Linked DNA regions of Homo sapiens. The protein of the gene in region 1 interacts with the protein of each later gene in a pairwise test. Each region holds a gene or a part of one and is shown on either strand. Other genes may lie near its edges.

Region 1 (3,634 bases):
TAATCATTCTTCAATATATACATGTATCATAATTTAACCCATAAATATACAATTTATTTGTCAATTTAAAATAGATTTTAAAAATTATAACATTTTGATTAAAATTTTAATGTTGACAGCAGAAGTACTTTGGAATTTTTTTTTTTTTTTTTTTTTTGAGACAGAGTCTTGCTCTGTCACCCAGGCTGGAGTGCAGTGGCGAGATTATAAGCTCACTGCAACCCCCACCTCCCGGATTCAAGCGATTCTCCTGCCTCAGCCTCCCCAGTAGGTGGGACTACAGGCATGTGCCACCACGCTCAGCTAATTTTTTGTATTTTTAGTAGAGACGGGGTTTCACTGTGTTTCGATCTCCTGACCCTGTGATCTGCCCGCCTCAGCCTCCCAAAGTGCTGGGATTACAGGTGTGAGCCACCACACCTGGCCAAGTACTTTGGAATTTTAAATGAAAATTCTATTTAGGATTTAGCTTTCATTTTGGAAAATTTACTTGCCAAACGATTATATTCTTAAAAGGATTTTAAAAATTTGTTTCACATAGGCCGGGTGCGGTGGCTCCTGCCTGTAATCCCAGCACTTTGGGAGGCTGAAGTGGCAGGATCACCTGAGCCCAAGAGTTCAAGACCAGCCTGCGCAACACAGAGAGACCCCGTCTCTGAAAAACAAACAGACAAACAAAAAACTTAGCTGTGCGTGATGGCACATGCCTGTCATCCCAGCTACTTGGGAGGCTGAGGTGGGAAAATCGCTTAGGTCTGGGAGGTCAAGGTTGCAGTGAGCTGTGATCTCGCCACACTCCAGCCTAGGTGACAGAGTGATTGCCTGTCTCAAAACAAATTTTTTTCTACCTTACCATCTAATTAAGACTTCTTTTGTCATTCTTAGGTACGGGAAAAACACTCTTGGCACGAGCCGTTGCTAGCCAGCTGGACTGCAATTTCTTAAAGGTAAAGGGAAGATTATTTTGTACTTATTGAAATTTAATTTTACTTGAATTATCTTATATTTACCTTACTGTTTTTCCTTTAATCAGGTTGTATCTAGTTCTATTGTAGACAAGTACATTGGTGAAAGTGCTCGTTTGATCAGAGAAATGTTTAATTATGCTAGAGATCATCAACCATGCATCATTTTTATGGATGAAATAGATGCTATTGGTAAGAATAACACCCTTGTTGAAAGTTTTAGGACTTTTTTTTAAATGTAAAAGAACCTTTTTCCCTCTCTTAATCTGTAATTGTGACTTGTATGAAGTAGATACCACAATGAATCAGATGTTAGTTTAACCAATTTTAATAAATAACCTTTCATGGCCGGGTGTGGTGGCTCATGCCTGTAATCCCAGCACTTTGAGAGGCCAAGGTGGGCAGATCACCAGGTCAGGAGATCGAGACCATCTGGCCAACATGGTGAAACCCTGTCTCTACTAAAAATACAAAAATTAGCTGGATGTGGTGGCACATGCCTGTAATCCCAGCTACTGAGGAGGCTGAGGCACGAGAATCGCTTGAACCCAGGAGACGTAGGTTGCAGTGAGCCGAGATCACACCACTGCACTCCAGCCTGGCGACAGAGCGAGACTCCGTCTCAATAAATAACCTTTCACTTTAACAAAATGAGAAATGTTACACCAAAATCAAGTCTAACTTTGTCAGCATAATTCTTGCTCTTTAATTTTCATCTTAATGTTTTAAGCCACAGACTGTTATGTTCTGTTTTCTTAAATGATGGTTGTAGAGGAAAAGAGTAATGCATATAAATTTCCAAATCTACTATCTTAGGTGGTCGTCGGTTTTCTGAGGGTACTTCAGCTGACAGAGAGATTCAGAGAACGTTAATGGAGGTAATATTTGGTAAAGGGGGTTTATAAAGAAACCAATGTTTATTAAATGAAGAACTGAACATTGCATATTTGATAGTCAAAATATATAGAACATTTTAAATGAAATATGAAATTTGAAAATATTGTCAGGAACAAACATGTTTCTCTATCACAAACTCTAAGAAAATGACTACTGGAAAATAAGGCTATCTGCCAAATTCCATTTGGTATACACCTGTACTATTCTGTGTTTTTTTGAGTAGATCAGTCATTCATATATTTAAATTCTTATGAATGTGATCTTGCGGTAGTTTTATGAAGACATTTTTTGTAATGGTCATATTAAGACTGTTGGCAATAAATGAGCTATAATTATGTATGAAGCTGCTCTAAAAATTATTTTTTTCTCTCACTTTATTGCTGAGACTGAGGCAACTAAAATAGTTTTGATAATTGAAGAGGATAGATGACAGAATGAAAGAATGCACATAAAGCCTTCCTCCAGTTTTACCTTTCCCCACTCCAAATTCTGTGAAAGTGATATCAAGAGTCCAAATACATTTTCCACTTCAAATAGAAACTAGGTAGCATGGGTAATGCAGTGTCAAATTCTTTCTCCTTAGAAGTATTTGAAAAATCTTTTTTCATAAATTATACAGATCCGCTCAGAAGATAACATAGCATTTGGAAATTATAAAATCTCTTAGAAACCTTAAATTGAGATATTTTTAAATAACACAAATACTCATTTTATTCAAGTAACTAATATATCATCAACTAACACATTGTCAGACTAGCTATATTTTAGAGAGTTTGTTAAATGCAGTAAGGTTTTTCATTTATTCAAGAAAACTTTAGAAATTGAGGACAATATTTTTTATGTCTTTTAGTATTTCTGTGTACAGTAGAATTATTTGAAAAAATAGGCCAGGCATGGTGGCTTCTGCCTGTAATCCCAGCACTTTGGGAGGCCCAGCTGGGCAGATCATGAGGTCTGAGCATTGAGACCAGCCTGACCAACGTAGCGAAACACCATCTCTAGTAAAGATACAAAAATTAGCTGGGCGTGGTGGCGTGTGCCTGTAATCCCAGTTACTCAGGAGGCTGAGGCAGGAGAATTGCTTGAACCCAGGAGGTGAGGTTGCAGTGGGCTGAGATCGCCCCATTGCACTCCAGCCTGGGTGACAGAGCGAGAGTCTGTCTCCAAAAAAAAAAAAAAAAAAAAAAGCAGTCCCAGCTACTCAGGAGGTTGAGGTGGGAGGACTGGTCGAGCCCAGGAGGTGAAGGTTGCAGTGAGCGATGATCAGGCCACAGTACTCCAGCCTGGGTGACAGAGTGAAACTCTGTCTCAAAAAAAAAAAAAAAAAAAAAAAAAAAAAATTATCAGTTTATTATCAAATTTGTAGAAAAATCTTTGTATCCATTTATCCTAATATAAATGTTATGTCTGACATATCATAAGCACTTTATATATTGGATTTTATTATTAGCTTTTCCTTTAAAAAATAATTGATGAAATTTTGGACATTGGAAATTAGATCCACATAGTTTAATTTCATAATTCTTGACATGATGGAAGCCTTCAGATTTATTAAAACTACCTGGTAGCTATAGAAAGATACATAGCTATTAAAAGGTACATAATCTAGCTTAGAACTTTGAGGCTAGAAAGTATATCCCTTTATATAAGAGAGAGAAAAAGAATTCTATCAAATGACCATTCTGAAGATAGAACATATCTATCTGTAGACAATACATTTCATGGCATTAGACATATAAAAGGTGTGTGCTATTTTTTTTAATGGTTAGAAT
Region 2 (3,634 bases), on another chromosome or scaffold:
CATAAATGAGCAGAAACGTCACTTAACCAGGTCCCAGCTGATGGGGTGTTAAGAAAACAGAGTTCTCTTCTACCCTTGTCTGGGTTGGTCCTACTAAAAAACTCTCAAGACCCTAGGCAATGTGATTTTCAGATTAACTGAGCTAGAGCGTTCATTTTAAAGTTAATGTTTTTTTCTTAATAGTTTTCACAGTGTACAGACAGAATTAAAGACCTGGAGAAACAGTTCGTAAAGCCTGATGGTGAGAATAGAGCTCGCTTCCTTCCAGGGAAAGATCTGACCGAAAAAGAAATGATCCAAAAATTAGACAAGGTAAACATTATTGCTTAAAATTGCATCTGTTAGCTCCTCGTTGATGTAGTTTCACAGATACCTATGGTACTGTTTCATGTTATGCTGACAGACCTATCCTTCATTATTCTAGTCACTAATATAGTCCTTTTGTTGTAATCTAGTCATACATTCTAAGCTTGATTTAGACACTTGCCAAAAGAAGTTCCAATCCAGTGGTTTCGAGATTCCAAAGGCACATTTCTCTCATGACCCAAAGGAGTAATTTTGGCATCTTAAATGGATTAATTTGTCTTCCTGATGGGAGCACATCAGAAGAATGGTGATGTGGATGTTAGATAGAGCTGAGGGGGCCATACTCGAACTCCCAGAGGTATCTGCAGGGGCTGGGGCAGGGAAAGTCTTAACCCAGCTCTAAACACTTTCCAGAGGTATTTTGTGGGGGGTAGGGGGAGATACTGCTCTAATTAGGAAATAAGATTTTGTCTTAGATGACTTTTTTTTTATTCCTCTTGAACCAATTTTCAAACATAGCTGGAACTACAACTGGCCAAGAAGGAGGAGAAGCTGCTGGAGAAGGATTTCATCTATGAGCAGGTCTCCAGGCTCACAGACAGGCTCTGCAGCAAAACTCAGGGCTGCAAGCAGGACACACTGCTCTTAGCCAAGAAGGTAGGCCTGAGACCCTGCCTTTTCCCTTCTGCCCCTGCTCCTTTATTACCTTTTATTTTCCACAGACCGACAGATTTATTGAGAGAAGCACTGGAGAGATTAGGCTTTATGACTAGGGGAACTTAGAAAAACGAAAGGATGACTCAGAGAATTGTCCAAAATGTTTCAATCTTATTCCCTGAATTAATTCACTTCACGGTGGCAAAACCTAGGCTTTTAAATGACACTATACAAGTTTCACTTACCAAGGCAACTACCCAAATATGACAGTTATTATCTTTGTATTTCATGCACAAAGTTAAATCCTTTTTAGTTCCTTTTAAGTGGAGCGCCTCACTTATCCAGTGATCTTAGTAGGGACTGCTCCAATCCAGAACTCAGCCAGAACCCAGAAATTGAAAGGGACTGATAAAGAGAAATGCAGTCACACAACACCCAGACCAACTGCACCATGGAGGTGCCCACCAGGCACCACTAGTGAGGAAAGGCCAGGAATACAGAACCCCCTAATTTAATAAGCGTAAGAGACCAGGACAGCAGATCCAGAGCCTCAGGGTCAGGGTGGGACTGCTAGAAGCTGCACTGAAAGGAGCAGCCAGCAGAGCCCCTAGAAGTCCCCCTGGACTCCCAGCATGTTGCATGCTAGTTACCCTGGTCTCTGTAACAACCTGCAATGAAGAGGTGAAGGCTGTCTATTAGTTCGTTTGCATTGCTGTAAAGGAATACCTGAGGCTGGGTAACTGATAAAGAAAAGAGGTTTATTTTGGCTCATGGTTCTGCAGGCTGTGCAGGAAGCATGGTGCCTGCAGGTCTTGCCAGGCTTCCTGTGGCTCTGACTCCTGCTTCCAACAAAGGTTCATTTGGGGAATTGCCCCATCAGCCTGTACACCCATTTCTGGGTCATGTCCGTGCAGGCACGGGACTCACTCCTTCCTCAGTCTACCCCTACACAAGACCATTCATGCGAGGCCTTTCATGCATACCATAGAGCCATCAGAGGACTGGCCACTCACCTGGCCTCTGGGTTCCCTGGAGCATCCCGTCAATGCAGAGAGTTCAGCCAGTCAACAGTAATTACTGAACACCTGCTATGTGCTACTCTCATGCTAGGCATGAGTTCAGAAACAAAGAGGAAGGGACACATTGTTTACACCATAGGAAGCTCATAGGGTCTAGTAGGGGGAGACAGATGAAAACAGATAATGGTAATACCCACACCAGAGACTGTGGGCTCCTGAGGGCAGCAGCTGTTCCTCGTTCTTAATTTCTCCAATGCCTAGCATGTGCCAGACTCTAGAAAAACACTTCAAGGATGAGTAATCATCAGTTCTGTTCTAGAAGCACATGTGGAACACTAAACAAGAAATGATTGTAAATATTAGACTATCTTTGCCATTTTTATTTGACTATTATGCTTCTGCTCTGATGACTTCCATGACTAGACTGATCAGGCCAGTGGCAGGTGTGCAAATCACAACTTGGCCTCCCAAACTAAGGTACAAAGTTGTGAGTCACACGTCTGCCACTGGACTGATGCGAAGGCTCAGTTAAGCTCATGCACTTTGCCTGAATTAGCATGTCTGATATTTCTTTAAATAAACGTTGCCTTCCTTCCTTTTGCAAAATGAATTTCCCTTTCTTTGGGGGAAGTCATTTTTCACTGAGGCCTGACTTATCAAAGCTGATGGCAGAGTCGCCTGGAAGGCAACAGTAATGCTAAAGAAATGTACATAGCGGCCGCTTCCCATAGCCAGGAAAGCTCCAGCACAGCCGAGTCCTAGTCTAACAATTATTCTCCCCTTTCCTTTCCCTACCTTCCATGCTCTCCATTGGCTTCTTCCTCCTCCCCAGCTTTCACTGTCCCCACTCCATTTAAAATGATAATCTCATAGTAGGCAGAACTGGAAAGTAGAAAGACATTCAGATTCCAGATCTATGATTTATCAAAAGTAGAAAATGACCTTGAGAAAGATGGATAAATGATCTTAAAACTCAGTTTGCTCATCTGTGTAATGGGTGTGATAGCCAAAGTTGTTGCAAGTATTACATAGTCGAACACGTAAGTGACCTAGCCACATTCAAAAAGATTGCACATCTCCTCAAGTGTCTCACTTCTCCTAGATAGCTTATGGCGCCTCCTGCAAATTTCCCAACAGAAATGGGAGCAGAAAGTGGGAAATCTCAGTTAAGACTTGGAGCAACCCAGGATAATATGAAACTTTGTTTTCTAATTTATGGAAGAGAAGGGAAGTTGGCCAGTTACACAGATGGACACACACACTCGAGTGTGTAGTGGTTGCCATCCCATTACTGGGTATATACCCAAAGGATTATAAATCATGCTGCTATAAAGACACATGCACACGTATGTTTATTGCCACACTATTCACAATAGCAAAGACTTGGAACCAACCCAAATGTCCATCAATGATAGACTGGATTAAGCAAATGTGGTACATATACACCATGGAATACTATGCAGCCAAAAAAAGGATGAGTTCATGTCCTTTGTAGGGACATGGATGAAGCTGGAAACCATCATTCTCAGCAAACTATCACAAGGACAAAAAACCAAACACTGCATGTTCTCACTCATAGATGGGAACTGAACAATGAGAACACATGGACACATGAAGGGGAACACCGGGGCCTGTCATGGGGTGGGGGGAGG
Region 3 (3,634 bases), on another chromosome or scaffold:
CACATAGTTCCTGCCAGGTGGAATGGGGTCCTAAACCCTGGTCAGGACACATAGTTCCTGCCAGGTGGAATGGGGTCCTAAACCCTGGTCCTACCAGTCTTCTTTAATGGTCACAAGTCTGTAAGTTACACAGAAGCTCCCTATCATTCACTACCCCATCTACTGCATCTAACCCAGTGCCAGTTGGCCCACAACAAATACTTGTTACAGGGGTGAATGAGTGGTGGTCTGTCTTCTTAGGACCTAGAACAAGAGCGTCACTCTAGTCTTGGATGCGCCCTGTGCCTGTGGCTGCTTGTCTGGGGGCTTCTAGGGCAAGTGTCTTGTCTAAATGTTGATCACTGAATAAAATGGGCCCAGCCTGGCTTGCCTTCTCTTACCCTTGAACCTGGGTTAGGACCGCAGAGAGCAGCATTTGGCCTTTCCCATGCTCCTCAAGGCCTTCACAGTGTCTGGTAACTGCCAGCTCTCAGACATTGGGCAGACCTGGTCATCTTTACTAGAGCTGCCCTCAAAGGAACCCCAGGAGGAGGTGGCCCCGTTACCCACTGCCCCTTCCTGCATGAGGTGTCTACATCCCTGACCTCTTTGTTCTGAGCCTACCCTGTAGAAAACAAGCTCGTGACCTTGGCATTAAATTGGGTATTGAAGGTTAGAGACCACCAGGAGCACACTGAACCTCTAGCCTGATTTTCCATTTTTCCTTCCCTCTCCAGGGTCTGCAAGTGGATGATGAGATTGTGGAGTTCGGCTCTGTGAACACCCAGAACTTCCAGTCACTGCATAACATTGGCAGTGTGGTGCAGCACAGTGAGGGGGTGAGTGGGGCTACCTGGTGTCTCGGTCTGTTTGGGTTTTTCTAACAGTATGCCATAGACTGCGTGGCTTACAAACAACAGAAGTTCATTTTTCACAGCTCTGGAGGCAGGGAAGTCCAAGATCCAGGCACCAGCCAATTTGGTGTCTGGGGAGGGCTTGCTTCCTAACTCCTAGGTGGTGCCTTCTTGCTGTGTCCTCACATGGCAGAAAGGGGAGGAACCCTGGGAGCTCTTGTATAAGGGCACTAATCCCAGTGGGGGCGCCACCCCTCATGACCTAATCACCTTGCAGAGGCCCCACCCCTAATACCATCACATTGGTGGTTAGGATTTCAACATATGAATTTCAGGGGGCCACAGACATTCAGGTCATAGCACTCGGCCTCTGGTCTATAGCCCTGGAGTTACTGGAAGTGTTGCTGAGGCCCTGGACTGCTGCCTTCATGGTGTTGCTCAGCACAGCCCCATTCAAGGACTTGGCACCTGCTATTCCTTCTGTTTAGAATGCTCTTCCTCTTCATCCTCCTTCTGTTTTACACTGGTGACATGCTCGCAGGGGGCCTTTCCTGGCTACCCTAACCCAAATTCCCCTCTCCTCTGCCCTGTCTCTGTTTTCATTTAACAAGGTTTCTTAGAGATCTTTTCTTTTTTTTTTTTTTTTTTTTAAGACAGGGTCATGCTGTGTCACCCAGGCTAGAGTGTGGTGGTGCTATCATAACTACCTCACGGCTAATTTTTTTATATTTTGTGGAGGCGGGGTCTTGCTATGTTGTCCAGGCTGGAATTTTTGTTGTTGTTTTGTAGCAAAGATCCACACTTTTCAGGAGTGATACTGTGGCAAAGCCCAGGAAAATTATTAACTAAAGTTTTTGGTTCCCAAATGAAGTCTCCAGTTAACCCAACAGTTGTGGATTTTTTGACTCCTGCTTAGCTGCACGGTTCATCTACTTGTAACCCATCAGTGCAGGCCAGGCCAGGTCAGGTCAGGAGATGGCTGGCAGTTGCCTATGCCCCTGCTAGTGGTCAGGCCATCGTTTCTGCACTGATACTGTCATCAAATCTGTAACTTGTATGGACGTTTAAAATGATGATTTTGTGAAATTTATCAGTTTTTTTGCTTATGGCTCTTGCATTTTGTGTCCATTTAAAGAAATTCTTTTTTTTTTTTTTAATTAAGAAATTCTTGGCTGGGCGTGGTGGCTCACTCCTGTAATCCCAGCACTTTAGGAGGGCGAGGTGGGTGGATCACGAAGTCAGGAGTTGGAGACCATCCTGGCTAACACGGTGAAACCCCGTCTCTACTAAAAATACAAAAAATTAGCCGGGTGTGGTGGCACACACTTGTAGTCCCAGTTACTTGGGAGACTGAGGAAGGAGAATCGCTTGAACCCAGGAGGCAGAGCTTGCAGTGAGCCGAGATCGCGCCATTGCACTCCAGCCTAGGCGACAGAGCAAGACTCTGTCTCAAAAAAAGAAATTCTTTTAATTCTTTTATTGTTTTATTTCTGTTTTTCCTTTAGTCCATCTGAAATTTATTATTATTATTATTATTATTATTATTATTATTTGAGATGGAGTCTCGCTCTGTCACCCAGGCTGGAGTGCAGTGGTGCGATCTTGGCTCACTGCAACCTCCGCCTCCCAGGTTCAAGTGATTCTCCTGCCTCAGCCTCCTGAGTAGCTGGGATTACAGGCGCCCACCACCATGCCTGGCTAATTTTTGTATTTTTAGTAGAGATGGGGTTTCGCTATGTTGGCCAGGCTGGTCTCAAACTGGCCTCCCAAAGTGCTGGGACTACAGATGTGAGCCACTGCGCCTGGTCTATTTTTATTATTTTTACAACAGTTTTATTGAGATTTAATGCACATACTACACAGTTCACCCATTTAAAGTGGTTTTTAGTGTAGTCACAGAATTATGCAGCCATCACAATTGTACATTTTCATCACTTCTCCTCCTGAGGCAGCCACTTTCCAGCCACATGTCCTTCAGAAAGACTGCTCATATACCAGCACACAGAGCTGCCAGTTGATTTTATTTTATTAAGGTGTAATTTACCTGCACCAGATCCACCTTTTTCAGTGTACAGTCCCATGAGTTTTCTTCTTTTTCTTTTCTTTTTTTTTTTTTAGATGGAGTCTTGCTCTGTCGCCCAGGCTGGAGTGCAGTGGTGCAGTCTCGGGGGGGCTACTGCAAGCTCTGCCTCCCAGGTTCACGCCATTCTCCTGCCTCAGCCTCCCGAGTAGCTGGGACTACAGGCATGTGCCACCATGCCCAGCTAATTTTTTTGTATTTTTAGTAGAGATGGGGTTTCACTGTGTTAGCCAGGATGGTCTCGATCTCCTGACCTCGTGATCCACCTGCCTTGGCCTCCCAAAGTGCTGGGATTACAGGTGTGAGCCACCACACCCAGCCGAGTTTTCTTTTTTTTTTCTTTAAGATGGAGTTTTGCTCTTTTGCCCAGTCTGGAGTGCAGTGGCACGATCTCGGCTCACTGCAACCTCTGCCTCCCAGGTTCAAGCGATTCTCCAGCCTCAGTCTCCCAAGTAGCTGGGATTATAGGTGCCCACCACCACGCCCAGCTAATTTTTTTTTGTATTTTTAGTAGAGACAGGGTTTCAGCATGTTGGCCAGGCTGGTCTCAAACTCCTAACCTCAGGTGATCCACCCACCTCAGCCTCCCAAAGTTCTGGGATTACAGGAGTGAGCCACTGTGGCCTGCCATTCCCGTGAGTTTTCACAAATGTATGTAGTATGTCATTGCCACCACGATGAAGGTCAAGAGCATTCCAACACCCCATAAAATTGCCTCAGG
Region 4 (3,634 bases), on another chromosome or scaffold:
GGACACAGGTGTGGACACAGGTAGGAGCAGGGTCCAGGGTTCAGGCCAGCCGGGGTGGGGCCCGCTGCCACCGCCAAGCCCTGCCCTTCACAGGCAGCTGAGGGACTAAGGCCCCGGAACAACCTCCCTGGGGTCACCCCGAAGGTCTGGTCCCCTCAGGATACAGGAGGGGCTGGGTCACTGACATGGCTCTAGATGCCCCACCCTGGTGGCAGGGCTGGGGTGCAAGGGGACACCGTGTTGCTGATGGGGAGACTGAGGCACAGGGCCCTGGGGGTTCCAGGAGCAGGAGGAGGCCAGGGCTGGCCTGTGGGGCTCTGGTGTTGGCTATAGGTGAGGTGGACCCCGCAGACATTAGCGCAGCAGGGCAGGGCACTCAGGTGGCTGCCGTGGGGTGGATGGACCCGGGGTGAGGGCGCCGGGGCACCTGCCACAACCAGTGGCGGGCAGGGTGGCTGGCAGGAGGGTGGCTGGTGGGTGGGCTGCGGCTGTGAGAGAGCAGTCGGGGACGATGCCTGGCGTCCCGGCCTGGAACGGTGGCAGGTGGACTTTGCCAAGTTGTAGGGTGGGGAGGTGGGGCTTCTGGTTTTGGAGGGAGCTCTGAGGGGAGTGCGTGCAGGTGAGGGTCATCGTGGCACAGACATGGGGGGCAGTTACGACTTGCGGACTGATGGTGTGTGCGCTGGGTCCCTGGGCCAGTGGGGTAAGCAGGTGAGGAAGGGAGGCTGAGTCCATGAGAGAAACAGCTGGGGGAACTCACCCTGGGGGTCTCCAGGAGGCCTGGGAGGGAGCTCAGCACCGTGGGGTGCCTCTTTCCAGCCTGTGTCCACACTGCTGCTTGCTGGGCCTCAGTGCCCCTGATGGGCGTGTGCCTGGAGGGGGCTGGCAGTGAGCTCACTGAGGGGAGGGCTGCTTCCCTCCTGGGGAATGCCAGCCCATCCTTGCCTGGAGTCCCGGCAGGAAGGCAGCACCAGCCCTGAGGAAGGAGAAAAACCAGTTGGGCTGTGAGAGGGGTGGTGGGAGCCCTGGACATCGAGATGGGAGGAGGCAGGGCCTCCAGGGTGCCACCGTCTCTGGGTGCCCGCCAGACTTGGAGCTCTGCAGAGGGTGGTGTAGGGTCTTGATTTCCGTGGGCCCATGCTGCCCAGCTGCCTCCAAGGCTCCTGGCTCTGCAGGCGACTGGGCTCCTCTCCTGGTAAACTGCTCCCAGGTCCTGGCTTGTCCACTAGATGGGCCTGCCCCCTGGGTCTTCAGTCTCCCCGTTGGTGGGCCTGGCCCTGGCACGCCTCTCTGGGCAGGTGGGCTCCCCTGGACAATGCCCTGTGCCCTGTGACTTCACAGGTCCGGGCAGAGCACCCTGGAGGGGAGGGGAGGGGACACACGGCCCAGCTCTGAGAAAGCCCCGGGGAGGGGACAAGATGTGGAGGCTCCTGGGAACCTCATCCCGCCCTCTTCCTACACAGGACGGGAAACTGAGGCTGGGGATGGGCAGGGGCAGCTCTGGGAAGGGGGTTGTTCAGAGGGGCCTCTGCTCCCACTCGGGTCATGGCCTTCACACGCACCTCGGCCCGCAGGGGCCCCTTACTGGACACGGCCCGAGCGGATGGACAAGAAGCTGCTGGCCGTGCCGGCCGCCAACACCGTCCGCTTCCGCTGCCCAGCCGCTGGCAACCCCACTCCCTCCATCTCCTGGCTGAAGAACGGCAGGGAGTTCCGCGGCGAGCACCGCATTGGAGGCATCAAGGTGGGCGCGGCGGGGTGGCTCTGGGCCTGGCAGGCGCGGTGGTTGCTGCCTCCGCTCACTCACCCGCCCGCGTCCCGGTGCAGCTGCGGCATCAGCAGTGGAGCCTGGTCATGGAAAGCGTGGTGCCCTCGGACCGCGGCAACTACACCTGCGTCGTGGAGAACAAGTTTGGCAGCATCCGGCAGACGTACACGCTGGACGTGCTGGGTGAGGGCCCTGGGGCGGCGCGGGGGTGGGGGCGGCAGTGGCGGTGGTGGTGAGGGAGGGGGTGGCCCCTGAGCGTCATCTGCCCCCACAGAGCGCTCCCCGCACCGGCCCATCCTGCAGGCGGGGCTGCCGGCCAACCAGACGGCGGTGCTGGGCAGCGACGTGGAGTTCCACTGCAAGGTGTACAGTGACGCACAGCCCCACATCCAGTGGCTCAAGCACGTGGAGGTGAATGGCAGCAAGGTGGGCCCGGACGGCACACCCTACGTTACCGTGCTCAAGGTGGGCCACCGTGTGCACGTGGGTGCCGCCGCTGGGGCTCCTGGGCTGGCCCCAAGGGTGCCCCTTGGCTGCGGGTTGCGTGAGGATTTGGGTCTAGGGGTTGGAGCTTCGGGGGCAGAAGCTGTGGGGGTGCTTGTGGGGCCAAGTCTCAGCCACCCCACACCTCAGGGCCATAGGCAGCTGCGTTGGGACCCGTTTCCGTGTCTGCAGAGGGCCAGCCTCAGCCACTGAAGTCCCTGACATGGAGCTGCCCACGGGCTTCTTGGGGGTGGGTGCGGCTTGGGCAGCAGTGGTGCCCCAGGACAGGAGGGCAGTGTGGCCAAGCCCTCCAGGCCCCCTCTGGGCCTCAGAGGCGGTGGCTGAGCCCCGACCTGGCCGATTGGCTCTCGTCAGCTGTGTGCAGTGGGGCCCGAGCTCACTGTCTGCCCGCCTCCTGAAGCCCTTAGCTTTGTTCCCATGGCTGCCGGGTGGGGGCCACTGAATTGGGACGGTTGCGACACTCAAAGCCCAAAGAGAAACATCTGTTCAGAGAGAAGACGGTCTCTTGGGGGCGGGGAGCAGGCGCAGGGCGAGGGTGGAGTCCAGACCCCGCCCAGAGAGGCCGCCTCGGGCCCTGTCCAGGGTGCAGGTTCTGCAAGAGCCCGGGGGAGGGCAGGCCAGTGACCAGAGGTTGTCTGAGGGTCTGGGCTGGGTTGTTGGGGTGGAGGCAGAGACGTGCATCCTGTGAAACCACAGCCACCGTGAAGTGCCTCCACGCCTCCTCCAGGCAGCCTTTGGGGCTGACGCAGCCCAGCCTCGATCTGTACCTTGGGGGTCTCCCACATCCTGCCTCGTGCCCGGCGGGGCTGCCTCGGGGGCGTGCCTGAGCCGGGTCTCTTGTCCCCGCAGTCCTGGATCAGTGAGAGTGTGGAGGCCGACGTGCGCCTCCGCCTGGCCAATGTGTCGGAGCGGGACGGGGGCGAGTACCTCTGTCGAGCCACCAATTTCATAGGCGTGGCCGAGAAGGCCTTTTGGCTGAGCGTTCACGGGCCCCGAGCAGGTAACGACTCTGTCCCATGCCGGCCGGCACAAGAGCTCCAGCTCCAAGGCCCTGGCCGCGCGCCCTGCACGCCCCGCACGCCCAGCCCTGCTCGCTCCCGCCCCGGCTCGCGCTCCACTCGGGGCCGCCTCGGCAAGGCTGGCAGCTCCAGCCTCCACGGTGACCGCCCGCTTCGAGCCCTGTGGCCTGCGCCGACCCTTCCCGCACGCCTGCGACCCCCACAGGAGGTGCCCGGTGCCCACCGGGCCGGCTCCGTGCCGTCTGTGAGCACCCCTTTGCGCCTCTCTCCACCCCTGCCCGCTGCCTGCTCGCTTCCGCAGCCTGTGTGTCCCTGTGTCCATCCTCCACCTGCACCCGCCCGG

The links.
Region 2: the proteins of PSMC6 (region 1) and CCDC146 interact in binary tests that used the Homo sapiens proteins (3 or more experiments, as listed by UniProt).
Region 3: the proteins of PSMC6 (region 1) and PSMD9 interact in binary tests that used the Homo sapiens proteins (3 or more experiments, as listed by UniProt).
Region 4: the proteins of PSMC6 (region 1) and FGFR3 interact in binary tests that used the Homo sapiens proteins (3 or more experiments, as listed by UniProt).

The regions. Positions count from the first base shown.
Region 1 is NC_000014.9:52,717,196-52,720,829, forward strand, and holds part of PSMC6 (26S proteasome regulatory subunit 10B), read left to right. Parts: intron 1-885; coding exon 886-947; intron 948-1,033; coding exon 1,034-1,157; intron 1,158-1,781; coding exon 1,782-1,843; intron 1,844-3,634. UniProt on the Homo sapiens protein: Component of the 26S proteasome, a multiprotein complex involved in the ATP-dependent degradation of ubiquitinated proteins.
Region 2 is NC_000007.14:77,286,615-77,290,248, forward strand, and holds part of CCDC146 (coiled-coil domain-containing protein 146), read left to right. Parts: intron 1-183; coding exon 184-312; intron 313-825; coding exon 826-963; intron 964-3,634. UniProt on the Homo sapiens protein: Essential for sperm flagellum biogenesis and male fertility.
Region 3 is NC_000012.12:121,902,290-121,905,923, forward strand, and holds part of PSMD9 (26S proteasome non-ATPase regulatory subunit 9), read left to right. Parts: intron 1-716; coding exon 717-818; intron 819-3,634. UniProt on the Homo sapiens protein: Acts as a chaperone during the assembly of the 26S proteasome, specifically of the base subcomplex of the PA700/19S regulatory complex (RC).
Region 4 is NC_000004.12:1,799,793-1,803,426, forward strand, and holds part of FGFR3 (fibroblast growth factor receptor 3 isoform 1 precursor), read left to right. Parts: coding exon 1-20; intron 21-1,574; coding exon 1,575-1,744; intron 1,745-1,827; coding exon 1,828-1,951; intron 1,952-2,042; coding exon 2,043-2,233; intron 2,234-3,121; coding exon of another isoform or gene 3,122-3,272; intron 3,273-3,634.